Linked DNA regions of Homo sapiens: region 1 is linked to region 2. Evidence: fine-mapped expression QTL. A gene starts in region 2. The other region holds a variant in brackets. All regions are shown on one strand. Distances are between the middles of the regions.

What was found. PIP is the estimated chance that this variant, and not a neighbour inherited with it, causes the effect.
Region 1: its variant is fine-mapped to the expression of CCKBR in tibial nerve (GTEx, PIP 0.96).

The regions. Positions count from the first base shown.
Region 1 is chr11:6,282,873-6,292,725 of GRCh38, reverse strand. No RefSeq gene overlaps it. Among named protein-coding and RNA genes, the nearest start is that of CCKBR, 28 kb to the right of the region's middle. The variant C/G (reference allele first, on the strand shown) is at 5,561.
Region 2 is chr11:6,253,591-6,263,443 of GRCh38, reverse strand. It overlaps CCKBR (cholecystokinin B receptor), which reads right to left and starts at 3,606. Exons shown (of 5, transcript NM_176875.4): 1 at 3,365-3,606. The coding sequence starts at 3,515.

The sequences.
Region 1 (9,853 bases), 29 kb before region 2:
CTGAGACTTATGTCCTAGGAAGCATGCCAAAGAACCTCTCAGTGAATTCTAGAGGCTTTGCACCTTAGAGTGGCAGGTAGACACCAGCTAGAGCCCTTTTCTGCCTCTCTGCTGAGAGTGGTACTGTCCTTACCAATCTTTGATATAAGTTATGAGCTGATGAAAGAATTATCTTTAAGGACCATGTGCATGTATGATTTCAGTGTAAACTGTGCTCTTTATTTCTAAGTACAGTGAATGTTTGTGTGCATTTGCTAACGAGTAGGTGCATTATAATCAATTCCTTCTTTATAATATATTGAAGTCTCTTTTTTTTTTTTTTCTGACATGGAGTCTTGTTCTGTCATCAGGCTGGAGTGCAGTGGTGCAATCTTGGCTCACTGCAACCTCCGCCTCCTGGGTTCAAGCGATTCCCCTGCCTCAGCCTCCCGAGTAGCTGGGACTATAGGTGCCCGCCACCACACCTGGCTAATTTTTTGTATTTTAGCAGAGACTGGGTTTTATCATGTTGGCCAGGATGGTCTTGATTTCCTGACCTTGTGATTTGCCCACCTTGGTCTCCCAAAAGTTCTGGGATTACAGGGATGAGCCACTGCGCCCAGCTGAAATATCTTAAAACACACCTGAAGAAGAGGGTATTATGGAGTTACTGGTGCAGATGATACCAACATTGCTTCAAAATGAACAGAAGTAAAGCTGCCTAAATGGAATCCCTGCAGCACTACTGCGGTAGACCCTGTAGGCTGACTAGCTAATTAGGCAAGGAGTCCTTGCTGGCAGTGAAGACCACAGGCCAAAGGCAGGGAATGGAGCTGTGGGGCCAAAAATGAACTTAAGTGTGAATAACTGGGGTGGGAGAATCCAAAAATTCTGTCCTATGTATCAGTACTTTTCAAACTGTAATTTGTATGGGAATGATCTAGGGGTGTTGTTAAAGTACAGGTTCTGATTTAGAAGGTCTGGGATGGGCTTGAGAGCCTTGATTTCTAACAATTCCCAGGGGATCACCCTGCTAAATCATCTTTTTAAGAAGGAAATAAATTGAGGGAAAGATTAAAAAACAAAAGAGGGGAATGAAGGTGGAAGTGAGCAATGTAAGCCCCAGTGCTTTCCCCAGGGCCATGCTCTCGGACCACTTCCAGGGGAAGACCTTTAGATTCTTCAGCCACCAAATCTCCTTGGAGGATTCTATTGCGGAATTCTCTTACAATAACTATACCACCTTGCTTATTTAGAATCTCTGTTGTATAGAGTTGGGGGGGAGGAGGGGTGTTCCCTCTGCATTTGGAGGAAAACTTCACAGTTCTAGAGTAGTGAAACCCTGGTGGTGGTGACAGCAGTGTCCCAGGGTGGTTGAAGTACTCCAAGGAATGGAGCTGAGATCTCACTGAGACTGCATACGAGGGAGCGCATACAAGGGATCTCATGGAAGGCATACAGAGGCATCACTGAGGATTCCTACAAATACATTTCTGGTGGGGGGTATTATAAGGGGGCATGAGAAGAATTAGACAAATATGTGACCTCCAGATAACTACATATATGCTCCAGAAGTGCCAGGATCTGGACACCTGCCTCACAGAGGCCATCACGCCAGTCTGTGTTAGCCAGAGAAGCAGTAACCACCCACAGAGACGGGAGCACAGCGTCACCTGGCTAAGGAAGGGGATGCTGTCTTTCTGCTTTTCCTTCTTCCCCAACACCAGTGGGAGGAACTATAGCAGGAAAGTTATGGGAGTACCTGAGAGTCAGACTATACTCCATCTCTCCTTTTTACTCTGATAATAACATTACAATTTTTAAACATATTTCTATGAATTTGCATGTTTATAATGTTTGCTCATTTTCCTATTGTGCTTGTATTTTCTTATTGATTTATAAGAACTCTTTATATATGTAAGTATATATACATACGTATATTACGTGTGTGTGTGTATATATATATATATATATATATATATATATATAAAGATACACAGATTTATATATATAATGAGAACTTTCTTGTGGGAAAAAAACCCAATAGCTTGAATCTTAGAGATTGCTAGTTATTAATGACAATAACAATGGCAGCTAATTTTTATCAATAATTTTCCAGGTACTCTGTTAGATGTTTCACATGGATTTTCTCATAATCCTCCTGACAACCCTATGAGGTAACTGCTATCACCTCAGAAAACCGAGATTTAAACAGTATAGACCACTTATCCAGTGTAACACAGCTAGTGAATATTAACACCAGGATTTGAACCCAGGCACACACTCTAGAGAAGAAGACAGGAAAGGCAAGAGGCTCTTGAGAATTCAGAGGGTCCTGAGAAGGGGGTATGCCAAGGCTGTGGGCTAAGAGTTATTAAGGTCGCAATCCTCTCCTTCCTCTCTCTTTAAAACAAATATTAATGGTGAGAGTGAGCTCTGGGCTAGGTACCGAGTAAAGGGTGGTGAAGGACACAGATAGGTCCCAGAGCTTACTGTGTGAAAGGAGAGAGCCACAACAAAAATAAGCATGTAATCTTAAATATTTGTACATGCTATGACGAAAAATTAGAAGGGCGTAACAGGTAACGAGTGGAGGACAGTTTAGACTAAAGGAGTAGGAAAGGCTTCTTTTGAGTAAGAAATTTTTAAATAGAGACCTGACAAAGAAGTATAATAAGTTAGTCAAATGAAGAGGAGGAGAAAAGAAGAAATTGCTAATGAAAAGAGAGAAATCATTCCTGATGTAGGAACGGTAAAAGGAAAGTAAATCTTGGGACCCCCAAATCACTAAGCCAAAGGGAAAAGTCAAGCTGGGAACTGCACTGGGAAAACCTGCCACCCGTTCTATTTTTTCCTTTCACAGAACAAACAGGACTTTTGAACAAGTGAAAGATGCTAGATGAGTAGGCAGGGGTTAGAGCAGGCAGAGAAGTGTTGAAAGTTTCAGGAGGGGACTTACAGGGTCCCTACCACTGGAATGAATTAGCAGAGGGTTTTGGCATTTTGAAGCTAAAGTCTCAGAATTTGTTGGTCAGTTATGGAGTCAGAAAGTGACCCTTGAAAGTGTGGGGATTGGGGCTCCTGAGGCAGGAACTGACCTTGGGCTTTGCCTATCTCAGGGGCTCCTGGTCTCAGTAGATTTTTCAGGGTCCGCGTTCTCTTCTCACCTACCCATTCTCTCCCACAATTTAGTCAGACCTCTGCAACAGATTTTCAAACTGTCCAGTCATTTCCACCTGGCCCTTTTCTACCTCTCCATCCACTTAGCATAGCATTTTCTCTTCGGGTATGGAAGAAATAGCTCAATTTTTTTGTTTTTACTCAAACCAGCTCTGGCATTTTGTACCTTTCTTCCTTTGCTCAAAACTACTTGTCATTCTTGGAATTTGACTCTCTTTTCATATTCACCTGGGAAGAATTTTAGAGCTGTAGAGAGCAGCCTAGCTCAGAAGGTACTTCCTCCACAAAGCTTTCTCAGACCCCCACAGTCAAAACCTCTATTTTGCCCATTATTGCCCATTCAAGGAGATCATAGTTGGCTTGCCTTAAAATTTTATTTCCTGCACATCTGTGCCTTCCAAACGTGAGTGAACCTATCTAGGGATGGACCATGTTACATCTTCTCAGATCTAGCCCCTTGCCTGCAGTTTCTCCTCTCCTTTCCTATAGTGGGGAATATTTCTTCACTCAAATTGATCAGTGGTGTGACCAACTTTGTAATCCTCACCTCCTAACCATATTCCCAATATTCCACAAAGGTAAGAGTCACTTGGATGTTTGTTAAAAAGTCAGATTCCTGGGCTTTGCCCTAAACCTAATGAATCAGATTCTTCAGACATGCCTCTCACATGTTATATACCTCTCTTTAAACATAATTTATATTTTTCCCTAGCAGCTTTGAAGCTTTTCTCTTTTTCGTTGGTTTTCTTTATCTTCACTATGATGGCTCTATGTGTGTATTTCTTTTGTACTTGCTGGAATTCGTAGTGCTAAAGGAAAGGGGTCCTGATTCAGACCCCAAGTGAGGGTTCTTAGATCTTGCGCAAGAAATAATTCAGGGCGAGTCCACAGAGTAAAGTGAAAGCAAGTTTATTAAGAAAGTAGAAGAATAAAAGAATGGCTACTCCATAGACAAGAGTAGCCCTGAGGGCTGCTGGTTGCCCATTTTTATGGTTATTTCTTGATGATATCCTAAACAAGGGGTGGATTATTCATGCCTCCCATTTTTAGACCATATGGCGTAACTTCCTCACGTTGCCATGGCATTTGTAAACTGTCATTGGTGCTGGTGGGAGTGTAGCAGTGAGGATGACCAGAGATCACTCTCATCACTATCTTGCTTTTGGTGGGTTTTAGCCAGCTTCTTTACTGCAACCTGTTTTATCAGCAACATCTTTATGACTTGTATTTTGCGCTAACCTCCTAACTCATCCTGTGACTTAGAATGACTTAACTGTCTGGGAATGCAGCCTAGCAGGTCTCAGCCTTATTTTACCCAGCTCCTATTCAAGATGGAGTTGTTCTGGTTCATATGCCTCTGACATGTCCCTTCTGCCTTTTATAGGAGAACCCTTAATCCTAAGGTTGCAGAGGGATGACGATCCATCTTTTGTAACGGCTTCACCTGAATAGGGGTGATGATATTCCTGCCTAGCTATTAGAGCCTCTTGTGTTTAGGGTAGAGAGGAACTCAATCAGAAAGCATTGGTATGGCAAGGGCCAATCATAACTTTGAGTTCCGAGAAAAGGTGATATCTCGAAGATTAATACGTATTTAGTTTAAGAAAACGTTCAGTAAGCTTATCCTACATTCCTACACAAAGAGTACAACAGCAATATATTCCACAACAGTAAAGCAAAATAAGTAAAACTATCTCAAGTAAACTAAATTAGAAGGCTTTATATGAATTGGGCAACTATTGGAACCAAGCTGATATAGGGTTGCTAGATGATTCCAGTACATGCCCAGAATTAGAATACTGATTCAGATTTTCACATTACCTTTCCCTTTTGTTTCTTCTGAGCAGCAGTCAGAGATTTCTGGTTGGTTCACAGAAATAAGCAGCGTTAGCCTAAATTGCAGAAACAAACTTAAAAACAACTGATGAGACTAGAATTTAATAAACAGTGTACCACAGTTCTTGAAACATAATTTCTCTCTCCAGTGTCCCATTTTTACTAAAGATAAGTTATGGTAAGACCAATTTGCTTTGTTTTGCTTGGCCTGATTACTTGTATAAAGTGCAGCAAAAATAATTATTTTTTTCATAAGCTCTTTTTGCACAGGCTTTGATGGAACTCTGTTCCCTAGAAGGAATCTTACATAAGACTTTTTTAGAGCCGAGCCCTTTCATGGGTTTGTACCCTCGAATACCTATGAGTTGAATAAATTCCTCTCCTCTTGGGGTCGCAAGATAACCTGGGGCTTCTGGACCTGTTAGAAAGTGACATTCTTTACTTACCACAGGTCAGAAACCTTGTATGGGGACTGTTATCCATACCTTGTATGGGGACCTTGTAGACAAGGTCTGAGGCCAATTGCCCAAGGGGCTTTTATTGGCTTTACAAGTCAAGTTTGATT[C/G]CTTAAAGAAAAGCACACCATTCCAATCAAAGTGTTGGTAAAATAACCAATTTCTCCAATTGTGTCCTGTTGCAAAAGAAAACATTCTTATTGCACTTATGCAAATACCTATATTGCCATAACTTAAGAATATTCACAACTAGTTTCCAAATTCTGGAGAAATCAGGTAGAGAGAAACAAATAAGCTCCAAATTTTGTTCGGAGGAGTATACTTTACTCAATTGCTAAAAGCTGTAAATAGCTCAAAAAAAAGTTTTCTTGACTCTGAAAAACAAAACAAAGGATTTAAGCAAAAAACGTTTTAAGCAAAAAGTTTAGAAGATACTTCAGACTTCTTTAGTTACTCTATGCAGTTAACTTTTGTTTGATATTCATGAACATTTCAGCTCCCTGTGAGAGCTCTGAAAGTTTTTTTCCTCTATTCTGATGTCACAATCTCCGAAGTTACCAGAAAACCTGCATTTAAGAGCCCCTGTATAGCTCTATAGCTGATTGTAAACCACCTTCTAAAGAGGAACAAAACGAGACTACAATTTTTTTATGGATGACAAAAAGTTTTAGCACAGTCAAGCCAAAATTGACTAGGAAATTTTGAGTACCTTTGTGGCACACAAGGATTTTATGTAACAATCGTACACTAAGTCCTGTCAGAATTACAGGAGTTTTAAAATAATTTTGGAACACATACCAATAACACATTTATACAAATACAGCCCAAAGAAAGCTAAACACTATTTTATATTTAATAATGCTTCCTGTATGATTTTTATGCCAAAAAAGCCAAATGTCACTGTTGCATTAGGGCATTATTGATGTCAAACCCAGTTCTTAATAAAACCTTATAGACAAATCTACCAAATTTTAATGTTTGGCCATAAGGTAAGATTCTCATAAACCTTTTATAACCCTTAAAAATTTTTGTTAAAGAGCAGATTATAAGCAGGTTTTTGCTCTAAGAAAAACCTGTTGTGCTTTTGTTCCAATGTTCAGTTTACAGAAAAACTGAATAATGCCACTTTAACTTTAGCCAACATGTTTACACACAGAATTTCTTTTACAATTAGTTCTTTACAAGCCTTCGATAACTTGTTCAAACCTTTAGCTTTATTTTATTTAACTTAAAACAATCCTTTGACCCTTTAAACTTAGGCAAAAAATCCACATTCCTATGCCTTCTTATAATCTTTTACCAAAAACACGTTTTACTTTTTTTTACATGCCTTACATGTAGAACCGTTTCCTCAGTAGTCTCAATTACATGTTATAATGTTAACTCCTGGCAACTTTTATTTTTGGTGAAAACCTTGGTAAGTTTGGGATTTTAATGATGTACTAGGTGTGGAGCCTAGCCTAGGACATACCAGGCAGAAGTGCAGATAAGAGCTGACCCTCCAGCATAGCTAGGGGACATGGCTAACTCCACATGTGTCCAGGTCTTACCTACAATCTAATATCTCCAAGGGAGGTAAATTGAACAATTTTTAAACGTCAAAGAAGCAGTTTATGACCTTAAAGCCTTTAGCAAACTTAATATCTAACCTGTGTAATTTAGACCAAATGTTTACATTTTTGAAGATATTTTTATTTTACCAATAATCTTTAAAACTGTCTTTATTTTCTGAGGATTACTTAAGTCACATGAACTAAAAGGCATTATACTTTTTACTTTTCTGACAAAATATTTGATTTAAGCTTTTATTACTATTAAACCAATTAATCAAAGCTCTTTTAGATATAAACGTCACACACACAACACATACAAATACACAGACAGACAGAAGATAAAGGATTCATCCGTAAGCCAGAAATGCACCCTAAACTTGGGCCACCATTGTGAAAAGAGAAAGCACAGCCACATGGTTACAAGGTCAGGCTCCCAAGGACATGACTGACCAGAGGGAAACCTCATGCAGTTCACACACACACACACACACACACACACACACACAGAAACAGAGAGAGAGAGGCCAGGCATCTGACTGGTAACACATTCTTATCCTTTTGCTGGCATGCCAGGTCTCTGGGTTCCCTTTCCCTGAGCGTCCCTAGTGACCCGTCTGGCTGCACCACAGCCCTGTGGGCCAAGACGCAACACAAAGGAAAATTATCTTTTTCTGTTCTGGTCAGAGCAAAATATGTGTGACAAAACATAGACATTAACCACTCTACTTAGCACCCAGTATCAAACTGGCAAGGCTCAAACTTGCCCCTATCATCATAAATCCAACCTCCGACCAGGAGTTTCAACATGTGTTCTCTGGGCAAGATGGTCACCCTGAGTAATAGAAAAAAAAAGAAATGAGAGAAAGAAAAGCATTGCTTGTGGCAGGGTGGGGAAGGCGAGGCTCTCAGGGAGGCCAGAGAAAGACCCACCCATTGCAGCGACCCTGAAAAGTTCAGGCGGCCGCTTGTTGGTCGTGAAGGGATCTTTTCCAGCAGTCCCACCAGCTCTCAAGTTTCCCCTTTTAGGAAGCAAAAAGCTCCCCATGTCCCACGATCCTGTAAGTGCCTAATTCTGTCACTCATAGCCATCAGCAAAGAGTGCAAGGCAGATTAATCCAAAGAAAATAGCAGTTAACATCCCATAATGCCAAACCTGTTCTTAGATGAGAGGGACTTTACTGAGAGGGGCCTCTAACCCCCTAAATCTTAGGAGGGACTCTAACCCTCCTAAGTTGGGCCTCTAACCCAAGGTCAGTCAAGTATCCTTGCCTTTTATTAAGAGGGGCCTCTAACTCATTCTGTTTTGGAAGAGACTCTAACTAGCCTAAGTTGGGCCTCTAACCCAATCCCATTCTTTACCTGCGTACTCCACCACTTACCCAAAGTCGTCCAATCAGTGCTGCGGTCTATTTCCTTTGGGTTGGTGGGTCTCCTCAGTATTGTCCCTTCTGTGGCTCATGAGAAAGATGCCACAGGACCCCACCACTTATCCAAAGTTACCCTTTGGGTCGGGGGTTTCCACACTATATTCCCTTCTGTGGTTGCCAGAAAGATGTTACAGGAAAGGGTCCTGATTCAGACCCCAAGAGAGGGTTCTTGGATCTTGCGCAAGAAATAATTCAGGGCGAGTCCATAGAGTAAAGTGAAAGCAAGTTGATTAAGAAAGTAAGTAGAATAAAAAAAATGGTTACAAAGCAGCCTGAGGGCAGCTGGTTGCCATTTTTATGTTTATTTCTTGATGATATGCTTAAAAAAAGGGGTAGATTTTCCATGCCTCCCCTTTTTAGACCATATAGGGTAATTTATAAACTCATGGTGCTGGCGGGAGTGTAGCAGTGAGGATGACCAAAGGTCACTCTCATCACTCTCTTGCTTTTGGTGGGTTTTAGCCGGCTTCTCTACTGCAAACTGTTTCATCAGCAAGGTCTTTATGACTTGCATTTTGTGCCGACCTCCTAACTCATCCTGTGACTTAGAATATCTTAACCACCTGGGAATGCAGCCTAGCAGGTCCCAGCCTTATTTTACCCAGCTCCTATTCAAGATGGAGTTGCTCTGGTTCACATGCCTCTGACAATGGGGTGTCTTGAGTCTGTAGCTTTAATTTTTTGCTGGAAGCTGCCCTAAGTTCCTTGCCATGTGGGCTACTCCAATGTGGCCACTTACTTTACGACAGCTTCCTTCTTCACAGCTTGCAATGGAGAGAGAGTTTACTAACAAGACCTAGTCTTTTATAACATAACTACCCTGGGAGTGATATCCCATCAGTTTGCCATTTCTGTCAGTTACATGAAAGTCACAGGTCCCTTTCCCGACACTTAGGGTGGAGGGAGCTTAGAGCCTGTCCACCACAGTCTTCTATGAGACTCCCTACTTTGCCAGCCCCTGGCCTTGATTTCTGTACACTGAGACCCCCAGTGACGGTGTCAAATATTAGAAATGGGAGAATATGCAAGTGCCTTCAGGGCAAAAGTGGTTTCCACGGTTTCCAAACCCTCTAAGCTTTCCCTTCACTTTTTGAAATGATAATTCCTTACTGTTTTGTCATCTCTTTATTGATTTTAAGAAAATATTTCTTATATTTTGTCCAGTTTTTCTTTTTAAAATTATTTTCAGCAGAAGGGTTGAACTAAGTAACCTAGGCAACCACTTATTAGGAAAAAGAAGTCCTGATTTTAGGGCTTTAGAAGTTCTAAAAACTTGTTTAGTAGTTTTTAGAAGATTCACTGAGACTGCTGTTTGGGGAACACATGTAAGGATGCAAGCATGGGAGCAGAAAGATAAGTTAGTTATTAATATTACAATAACACAGTTGAGAGATGATGGCGGCTTCAGTATACAGAAACTCCA
Region 2 (9,853 bases):
CTGAGCACCTGAGTGAATGTAAGTAATATTTAAGCTTTTGTGGGTATTATCTGAGTATGTGAGAGTAATATTTGTAATTTTATGGGTAGTATCTGGGAAAAGCTTACTTAAGTGAGCATAGGTAATATCTGGTTGTGTGTGGATAATAATAAAATGAAAGTGAGTAGTGTTTGATGGATGGGTAACACCAAAATGACTTCGGACAATATTAAAGTGAGTGTGGTAACATTTGTCTTTCTGTGGGTACTATCTGAGTGAACATGGGTAATACTCAAGTCTGCATGGATTATATAAGGAGAATAAAGTGGTAACATCCAAATTCCTATTGGTAACATTGGAGTGAACCTGGGTAACCTATGCATCTGCAGGGATAATATCTGAATGAGTGTGGCTGACAGGGTCTCTGTGTGTAACATCTGACTGGCTGGGTAACATCCAAATGTGTGAGGAGCATTTAGATAAGTGAGGCAAATTTTTGCACCTGTGCTCTGAATTGCGTCACATCCCGCTTTCACAGGGAATCTTCTCTATTGACTATCCCCTTTCTTATCTGCACCTTCAATCTTCCTCTCTCGGCCCAATCACCAACAAACATTTTAAAAAGCTCTTGTTTTAAAATGCGTGCACACACACGCGCACACACGTAACAAACCTATGCACATACCCACTCCCCCCTTCCTCAATCTCATGCTATTTTTGGCAATATCCTGCTTTTCTTTCTCTCTCTCTCTCTCTCTCTCTCTCTCTCTCTCTCTCTTTCTTTGCCTACCAGACTTCTTGAAAGTTTTGGCTACATACCTTGGTTCACTTCTCATAACTCCTTCTCTCACCAGTCCAATCTTTAACCTACCATAGTCAAGCCTCAATACCTACAACTCCTAAATATTTTCTTGTTATTGAATGTGAAGGATGCTGTTCTGACTGTCCTGTTTTTTATTTATGTAACTTATGTCAATAGCATTTGATATCACTTACCCCAACCTGCTTGAAACTCTCTTTTTCTTGCTTTCTGGAAGGGCGTAGCTCCTGCCTTTCTGATGGTTTCATCTGAATCTCCTTCATAAATTCTCCTTTCTCTGCCTGGCTTTTAAATAATGGTCTTATGCAGAGTCTTGACCTAGGACCTATTTTCTTCTCATTCTATACAAAATTTTATGATTTTAACTATTCTCGGGGCTTCTACATCCTGTAGGCAAAGACCTTCTTCAAGTCTGTATTTCCACCTCAGACCTCTCCTGTAAGTTCCAGACCCCTGGATTCAACAGCTTACTAGGTAACCTCACCTGGATGCCCCACTAACATTTAAACTCAATGGGTTCCAAACTGAATTTATAATTCCCTCTTCCAAACCTGTTTCTGCTGTTTTGTTATCTTTCTCATTGTATACAATTGCTATAGCACCAATATCCATTCAGTTGTCCAAGTTAGAAATCTGAATGTCATCCCTTGACCTCTTCCATCCTCTCTGCTTCTAATCTGTTGATTCCATTTCCAGAAGAGGCTCTCAAATCTATCCACCTCTCTCCATCTCCCTTGCCATTACCTTAGTCTCAGCTAGCATCATCTTTCACCCAGAACAGTGTAATATAGTAACCTTGTAAAGTATCCCCCTGCCTTCCATCTTATGTCTTCCAATCCGTTCTCCACATTATAGAACTAATCCTGGTAGTACTACCGAATCTTTTAGTAGTTCCTATTGCCCTCGGGAGAAAGTCCATGTTCCATGGTCAGGCCTAGCAGGCTCTCTGCAAACCCTCTAGGCTGGTCTCCAGCCTGTTCATTATTCCCTTCTTAAGATATATGTTCTAGTCACTCAAAACTATGTCACAGTGGATAAAAGTGCCATGAATTCAAACTTTGAGCTTCTTATACATCTTGTCCTTTTATTTGGGATGCTTTCTGCCTCTTCTGCCCGTTCACTTGGCTGGCTCTCCCATATGTATATGTGTGTGTGTGTGTGTGTGTGTGTGTGTGTGTGTGTATATATATTTTTTTTTTTTTTTTTTTTTGCCAACAGGAAGCTTAGAGCCAGCCTCCCTAATTTTTTTGACTTTGTAGCTCATTTCCTCAAGAGGCCAACTTTAATTCTCAAGGAGGCTGGGCTGGGCTAGAGGTGTTCCACTTGTGTTCCCACTATCTTTTCCCTGTCAAGGCTCTTCCACTTTGTGCTGCAATCCCCTGCTTTTCTGTCTCGCCCATTAAACTTTGAGCTCTGTGAAGTAGGAATTGTGTCGGTTTTGTTCAACTTACATTCCCACTGCCTAGCACAATCTCTGGTTCAATAAATATTGGCTGAATGACAGAATCCAAGTGTGAGTGTGTAACAACTCGGCTGAGAAAGCATAGATTATTTCGTGGGGTAAATAAATACTTGGATTACAATTTATTCCAACTTTCCCTTTTTGAGTTTAGAAAAATTTCCTTCTGCTTAACATTGCTCCTTCACCTAGAATCCCACTCCTTCCTTTTCTGCCTACTCAACTTCAAGACCCAGCTCTAAGGTTCTAGCCTCTGTGAAGTTCTTTTGGTGCCCACAGTTTAGACCCTTTCATGGGACTTCCATTGTGTCTGTGATTTTTCCATTTGCTTGGTTTCTCTCTGCACTTGGCTATGGGCCATGAGGGTCCAGACTGGGTCTAGTTTGCCCTGTGCCCCCAGCACCTAGCCTAGGGCTGGAGAGAGAGCTTGGAAGATAGCTGGAGACATTACTTGCAGACAAAGAGAGAGGGCACAGAGCCTCGAAAGCTCCAACTAGGGAGGCAGAGGGGTTTGAGAAGGAGTGAAATGGAGGCAGGCAGCTCTAAGGAGCATCCCCTAGTGTCCAGCCTAATTCAGATTTGAGGATCTTTTTTGGGATGGCTGGGGGCTGGGGTGTCAGATGTGATCACAACTTCAGCTTCGCATTCAAGCTTTCCAGAGTGCTCCCTCCCTCAACCAGCCCCCTTCTTTTCCCAGTCCTGCCTTCCTTTCTTCCTTCCCTTCTCTGTTGTGGCTCTGTGAACTGGATGTAAGAGGGAAAAGGAGATCTGCAGGGTTGGCAAGAGGAGGTCCTCGCCTTCTGACTGGTGTCTAGGAGGGGCTGCGTGTTGGGGAAGGGGCTGTGCTTTGGGGTGAGCAGGGGCTCTAGGTGTATTCAGGGGACCAGGATGTGAAGGAGTTCCGACCAGGTGGTGTGAAGCTGTGATGAAGTTGTAGGCTGTGGGGGTGAAGGTGTGAGGGGAGCTGTTTGGGGGCTGAGGGAGTACTATGAGAGGCACGGTGTGGACGTTTGAGAAGGTAGTGTGGAGCTCGTTGGGGGGACTCTATTAGTGTTCTGGGGTACAGTGAGAAATAGCTTGTGGGGGGGGCTGAGGGAGGCACCCACCTCGTGTCCCGGCTCCGCGAATGCGAGGGGGCTCGCAGCTGAGGTTGCCCACACTGCTGCTGTTGAGGAGAGGCGCCCCCGGGCGGCACAGGGAAGCCCCCGGCCCGGGTCCGGTTCCCTGCACGCTCCGGTTCAGCTTTAGCAGCTCCATGGCCCCCGCCGAGCCCGCCGCCTTACTCAGCTCGACCCGGCGGGCTCCCAACGCGGCTCCACCTGCTCACGCTGCGATTCCGGCTCAGGCTCCCGCCGCCCTCCTCTCCCTGCCCCCTGCCCCGCCTGGTCCCCGCCCCCAGCCCAGGCGCCTGCCCTCCACTCTCCCGCGGCTCGCCCCGCCTGGGTTCCCGTCCCTCCGCCAGCCTCTGTCCCGCCAGGTGACTGTGCACCCCCTCCCTGGCTCGGGAGTTCTGCCCCTCCCTGTGCGACTGTCCTCCAGGCTCGCCCCCTCCCTAGATGTGTCCCGTCTCCTCTTAGAGATTTCTCTCCTGCCCACCTCTCTTTATCACCCGCCCCCACCCCCGATTCCCAGGAATGAGAGAGAGAGAGAGAGAGAGAGAGAGAGAGAGAGAGAGAGAGAGAGATTGAAGACAAGAGTATTGGCAGCGTAGGGGGAGGTTTCGGGGAAGGGAGGGTAGGAGGGGTTGGGTAGAGACGGCTGCCACGGATCCAGCATCTTTCTCTGGTGTATCAGGGAACGTGGAGGTGGCGTTGGAGACCAGGTCTGCGTGCGTCACCTGCTGAGGCGCGGATGCTTTAGTCTGAGCCTAGAGCCGCATTTACCGTACTGTGTTGCAGTGGCCGCAGTGACCGTGACACTATTGCTACCGTAGTTCCCTGCAGCTCCTCGCTGCGGGCCTGGGGTAGCTCCTGCATCTGTCTCCGCACCCTCCATCTCCTGTCTGAGGCTTAACACTCAGGCTTGCACTTAAGGGTCCCAAGGAGCCCTCCACAGCTGGGCGGGAGTGGGGGTGGGGCCGGGGCCGAGATTTGGCTCCAGGGAAGCCTTGCCAGGGAAAAGGGCTCCCGGGAGGAAGCTTCTGACTTGAGTGTTGAGGGCAGTTGGGGGTGGTGGCAAGCACTGACAAGGATAAACCAGAGTAAGGTGAGGATGGGATATAATTCTAACGCCGGCCCAGCGCAGGCAAAAGAGAAGGAGAAGGTTGGCTTTCTCCACCGTCTCCAGGCAGCGCCCACGCCCACCCGACACGCTAACGCTCCCTGTTTGCTCTCAGTGCAGGCAGAGCTGCCTGTGTAGGGTGTCAGGTTCCCACGAGAGGGGGCTAGAAGGGGACTGGGTCACTGCGGTGCAGCGGGAACAGGGCTGAAGGGTGCAGGACTGAACTGGGTTCAGCTTCTCGGGGCAGGATTTGCCTCTTCTACTATTTCAGCCCTGCTCCCTATGCATTCTCCTATCCATTCCTTTTCTTCCCCAGATTCCTATCTCCAGATTCCTATCTCCAGATTCCTATCCATTCTTCAGATTCCGGATGAACTCCAATACGATGTGAAATTCTTCTGACCCCCAGCAGTAGCTGTAAGAGGTTGGGGGCGGGCATCAGTGGAAGAGCAAATTAGAGAATGGAGTCTGGCTTTATGGGGGATTCAGCAGGCCCTTATCCAATTAATCTTTTGGAGAGGACCTGGTTCAGCCAGCCCTGAGTTTATAGGGGCTGAAGCATTGAAAGAGAGTTGAAAGACAGTTTATGCCTGAGATGTCATCAACTGCTCCCCCTTTCCTTCCTCCTGGTACTGCCTGTCTTGCCCATCAGAGAGCCTGGACCAGAGGAGCTTGATTTGCTATTTGTTCCGCTCCAGCACAGGTGGGGCCTCAGATAACCTGCTCAAGTTTTCCCACATTGGATGACAGTACGATGAGGAGGGAAGGGAGCAAAGGATGTAAGGGAGAGGGGAGTGAAAATAGAAATAGATGGACATTCACTTATTTAGCAAACTATGCCAGTTCTAGGGGTATGCACTAGTTGTCCAATATAGTTTGCCCCTCAGTAGCACCTACTCTAGTGGGATTTTCCCAAGCAAGCCAATGATTGTAATATATGGTCGTTAAGTGCACCCACCAGGATGTACAAATCAGAAATTTAGGAATTATTATTGATGCCTTACTCCCCTATGCTCCTTCACCCCTGCGCTGGATGCTGTGATGCAAAGCCCAGAACCCTCTTCAAAAATGGAGGATTTATTTTCCAGCTGTGGAGAGTGCTCCTAAAAGATGGCCCTCAGCTGTCATAACCCTTCAGGAGTTGCCTAAGCAGAAGAAAGCCAGCTCATCCAAGGTTATGCTCCCTTTCTTGGGCATTCTATATCCAATGACCGATCAGCACAGAGGTATAAAAGTTTAATCCCCTCAACCCAGTGGTGGACAACTCTGAAAGATGCTCACACCCCTAGAACCCTTCATATGGTTGACTGAGGTCTTTGCTGGGACTGAATTACTACTCAGCTTCTCCTTTTGCCCAATCCTATTTTCATCCTCTCTCTTGCACAGGTGTTAACTCCAAGAACGCTCCTTAGTAAACATCCTCCACAGTAATCTTTGTTTGAGAGTCTGCTTCCTGGGGAACATAACTACATCACTCCCATATTGAATCAATCACAAAGTCCTGTTCATTTTAGCTACTGAGTGTTCCTTGAATCTGCCTGCTTATATGTCCACTGATATTACCCTACTCTTGAACCACACTCCTAACCTCCTAAATGGGCCACCACATTTTACTGATGCCTCTCTACATCTATACTTCACCTTAAAGCCGAAGTACTATGCTCAGAATACAAATCTGACTATCCCACTCTTTTGACCTTTGCTTTTGGGAATGAGAAAACATATTAACAGAATTTAGAAAGCCTGTGAGGCCTGGCTCCCACTTACCTCTCTAGCCACATTATTTCAAATCACATTATTTCAAATAAGAGTCACAATGATTCTTATTCTCTCCACTGTAAACACATTAGCCTTTTTTTGGTCACTCCTTCTTTTTTCTCTTTTATTTTTCTTTTTTCTTTTCTTTTTTTTTTTTTTTTTTTTTGCTATATGTCCTTCAGTTGCATGACTTTTCCATATGCTCTCTGGAAGCTTCTTCTTTCCTTCCTTACCTAGTTAACACTTACTCATCCATCTGATCTCAGCTCAAGCTACGATTCTTCAGGGATATTTCCCCTGGCTTCCTCTCCTTGGGTAGGCAGAATTAGAAGATGACCACCAATGACTGTCACCCTTATATAATCTTCTTTTGTGTGTGGATGGACCTGTGCATATGATGAGATACTACTCCCACAATTATGTTATATGGCAAAAGGGATTTTGCAGATGGAGTTAATTCTACTAATCAGTTGATCTCAAGATAGACAGATTATCTGGCTAGTCCTAACCAAGTCACATGAGTTCTTTAAAAGCCAAGGGTTCTTTTTTTCTTGCTGGTAGCAGAAGAGGAAATCAAAGAGATTGGAAGAATGAGAAGAATTCAACACACTGTTGATAGCTTGAAGATGGAGGGGATAATGTGGCAAGGAACGAATGGTGGCTGTTTTCTGGCTCGAGGGTGAAGGAGGGCACAGGACAAGCCCTGAGAGTGGCCTCTAGTTGACAGCAGTCTCTAGCTGACAGCCAGCAAAAGAACAGAGACTTCAGTCCTCCCCCGAGTCTGTAGAAGAGAATTCAGTCTGGCTGAAACCTTGATTTCTGATACCCTGAGCAGAGAACCCAGCCACACTGTGTAGACCTCTGGCCAATAGATCTGTGAGCTAATAAATGGGTGTTGTTTTTAGCCACTACATTCATGGTAATTTATTACAACAGCAACAGACAAATCATACACCTTCTATCTCATGAGGCAGCAAATGCAGACTCTTGCAAGCCATGCAAGGAAGAATTGGGAGCATTGGAAATTTGTTAAGATTTAGAAAGATTTGGAAAGATTGCAGTGGAGTTAGTGTGGGGAGCAACTTAAAAGGTGGGACCAATTGGGAGTCTATGACAGTAATTTGGGTGAGAGATGGTAGTGGCTTGACCTAAAGTCATGGACGTAGTGGAAAAGATTGATCTAAGACCTATCTAGGAGGTAGAAACAGAATTTAAAGATAATTTGCATGTGGAGGGTGAGAAAGAAGGATGAGATAAAAAATGAATAAGGTTTCTGGTAACTCAATATAAACTATTTGATGATCACCTATGATGTTCAAGGCACATTACCTGTAAGTACATTTAATCTTCATGAAGAACCATGAATTTAGGTCCAATATTGTTGATCACTATTTTAGATGAAAAAACTATGGCTTAGAGAGAGTTTAAGTAACTTGCCCAAAGCCACAAAGCTACTAGGTGAAAGAGCCAGAAGTCAAAGTCAGGGATTTTGGAAATCAGAATTCAGTTGTTCATACTGTGCTGCTTAGAATGAGTAGATGTCTTACCAAATTTCCCTGATTACCTTCTTTCTCTCATTTTACACAATATTGTTTTTAAATTTTCTCGTCTCATAAAATCTCTAATTTCTTCTCCCACCCTGACACACACACACACACACACACACACACACACAGAGACACAGAGCATTCTTCACTCTCAACCTAGACTCCAACTTCATAGAGAAAATAGTAACTAGCACAGAGAAACTCCCACCATCAAATCTGTTCTGTTTTGGACATATTAAGTTTCAGATGTCTATTAGATACCTAAGTAGAATTCCATTAGGAAGCTAAATATACAGATCATATAGGAAGTAATGCAAACCACAGAATTAGAGTGTGTAGAATAAGAACAAATGAAGGATCAAGTCAGACTTTTAGAGGTCATTATTAAAGACTGGATAGAGAAAGATGAGCCTGCAAAAGACACCAAGAAAGAGTAGACAGAGGGACAGGAGGAAACCCAGAGAGTGAAGCATCATAAAAGCTAAAAGAGAAGAGGTGCAAGAAGAAACTGGTGAACTCATTCAAATGCTGCTCCTGGGTAAGCAAAATGAGGAATGAGAAATGTGGTCCAAAATTAGTAACCTGGAGATCTTTGGCAACCTTAGAAAGAGCCATTTTAGTGAGGTTGTTGAGGCAGAAGGCAGGGTAGATGTCCTGAAAACTGAATATGGTGGGAAGAAGTGGAGTAAATGACTTCAGACAAGTTTTTAAGAAATGTAGTTACTAAGGAAAGGGGATAGAGCTGCAAGAGGATGTCAAATGAAAGATTTTTTTTTTTAAGATGGGTGGACTTGAACTTTCTTTTCTTTCTTTCTCTCTTTCTTCCTTTCTTTCTTTCTCTTTTTTTCATTTTTTTGGCAGATGGAATTACTCCAATATATAAAAAGACTAAAGATACAGGAGAATGGCTAATTAATAATGCAAGGTTCCTGAGAAGTCAGGGATGTATGCAATCCAGAGCGGAAGTGGAGGATCCTAGCTTTTGATTGCAGTAGAGACTCAATTGTGAGAGGAAATTAGTAGAAAAAGATGATTATAGATGAAAATAAGTTATGGCCTACAAATTAACCGCTACATTTCCTAGACCTTTTTGCAGCTAAGTGCAAAAAATGCACACTATGACTAGGTAGTGTCTGTAGGTAGAAGTGATATGTGCAGCTTCCACATCAAGGTCTTAAAGGAGAGAAATGGACCTTCTCTTCCTCTTTGCCCCTATGGGAGGGCAATAGGAATGTAAATAGGAAAGCAAGCCACCTTCAATCATGCAGTGAGGGTAACATATTAGGGATGGCAGAGTGACAAAATGGAAGGAGTCTGGGTCTCCTATACTCTCAAACCATTTTATCATCCCTGATTCTTCTGCATGAAAAAGAAACTGCAGTCTTAACTCGTTACAGTTTTTTTCCTCTATTGTCAGGGCAACCTAACCTGCATCTTAACTGAGACAGTTGTTTGTAGATTTGGTAGGGAGCTGCTGTCTGATAGTTTTTATTTTTGCTATGGAGTTGGAGATCTGGTTATCAGAGAGTGGTGTGTGTGTGTTTGTGTGTGTGCGTGTGATGAAAATTTTTAGTAGTCAAGATGGTTTAAGAAAACAATATATAATGGGAGAAGGGAAAAGGAGACCTGAGGAATGTAGTGAAATAATAGGAAAATACTGAGGGCCCACTTAAGGGGTGATGACTACAAATTTCTAGTGGGATCAATTTCTCAGCAGAGCTCAGCTGGTTGGATGCAAGCAAGGAGAATGTTGATGGTTTGGTTCATCCAAAGTTGGAATTTTACCAGATGAATGGAATGGCAAAATAAAGGGACAAGTGTGAAAAAACGGGCCATAAAATCTCAGCTGGACATGGAGAAGAGAGAATTATATTCCAAGGGTCTGGCTCCTGCCCTTGTTATTGTATTTGGAGATAGGGCCTTTAAAGAAGTAATTAAAGTTAAATAAAGTTATAAGGGTGGGGCTAGAACTGTTGTCATTACAAGATGGGGAAGAGGCACCAGATATCTTGTGATCCACCATTTCCCTCATCCCCTGCCACCTCTTCCCCCTGCAAGCCACACACAGGG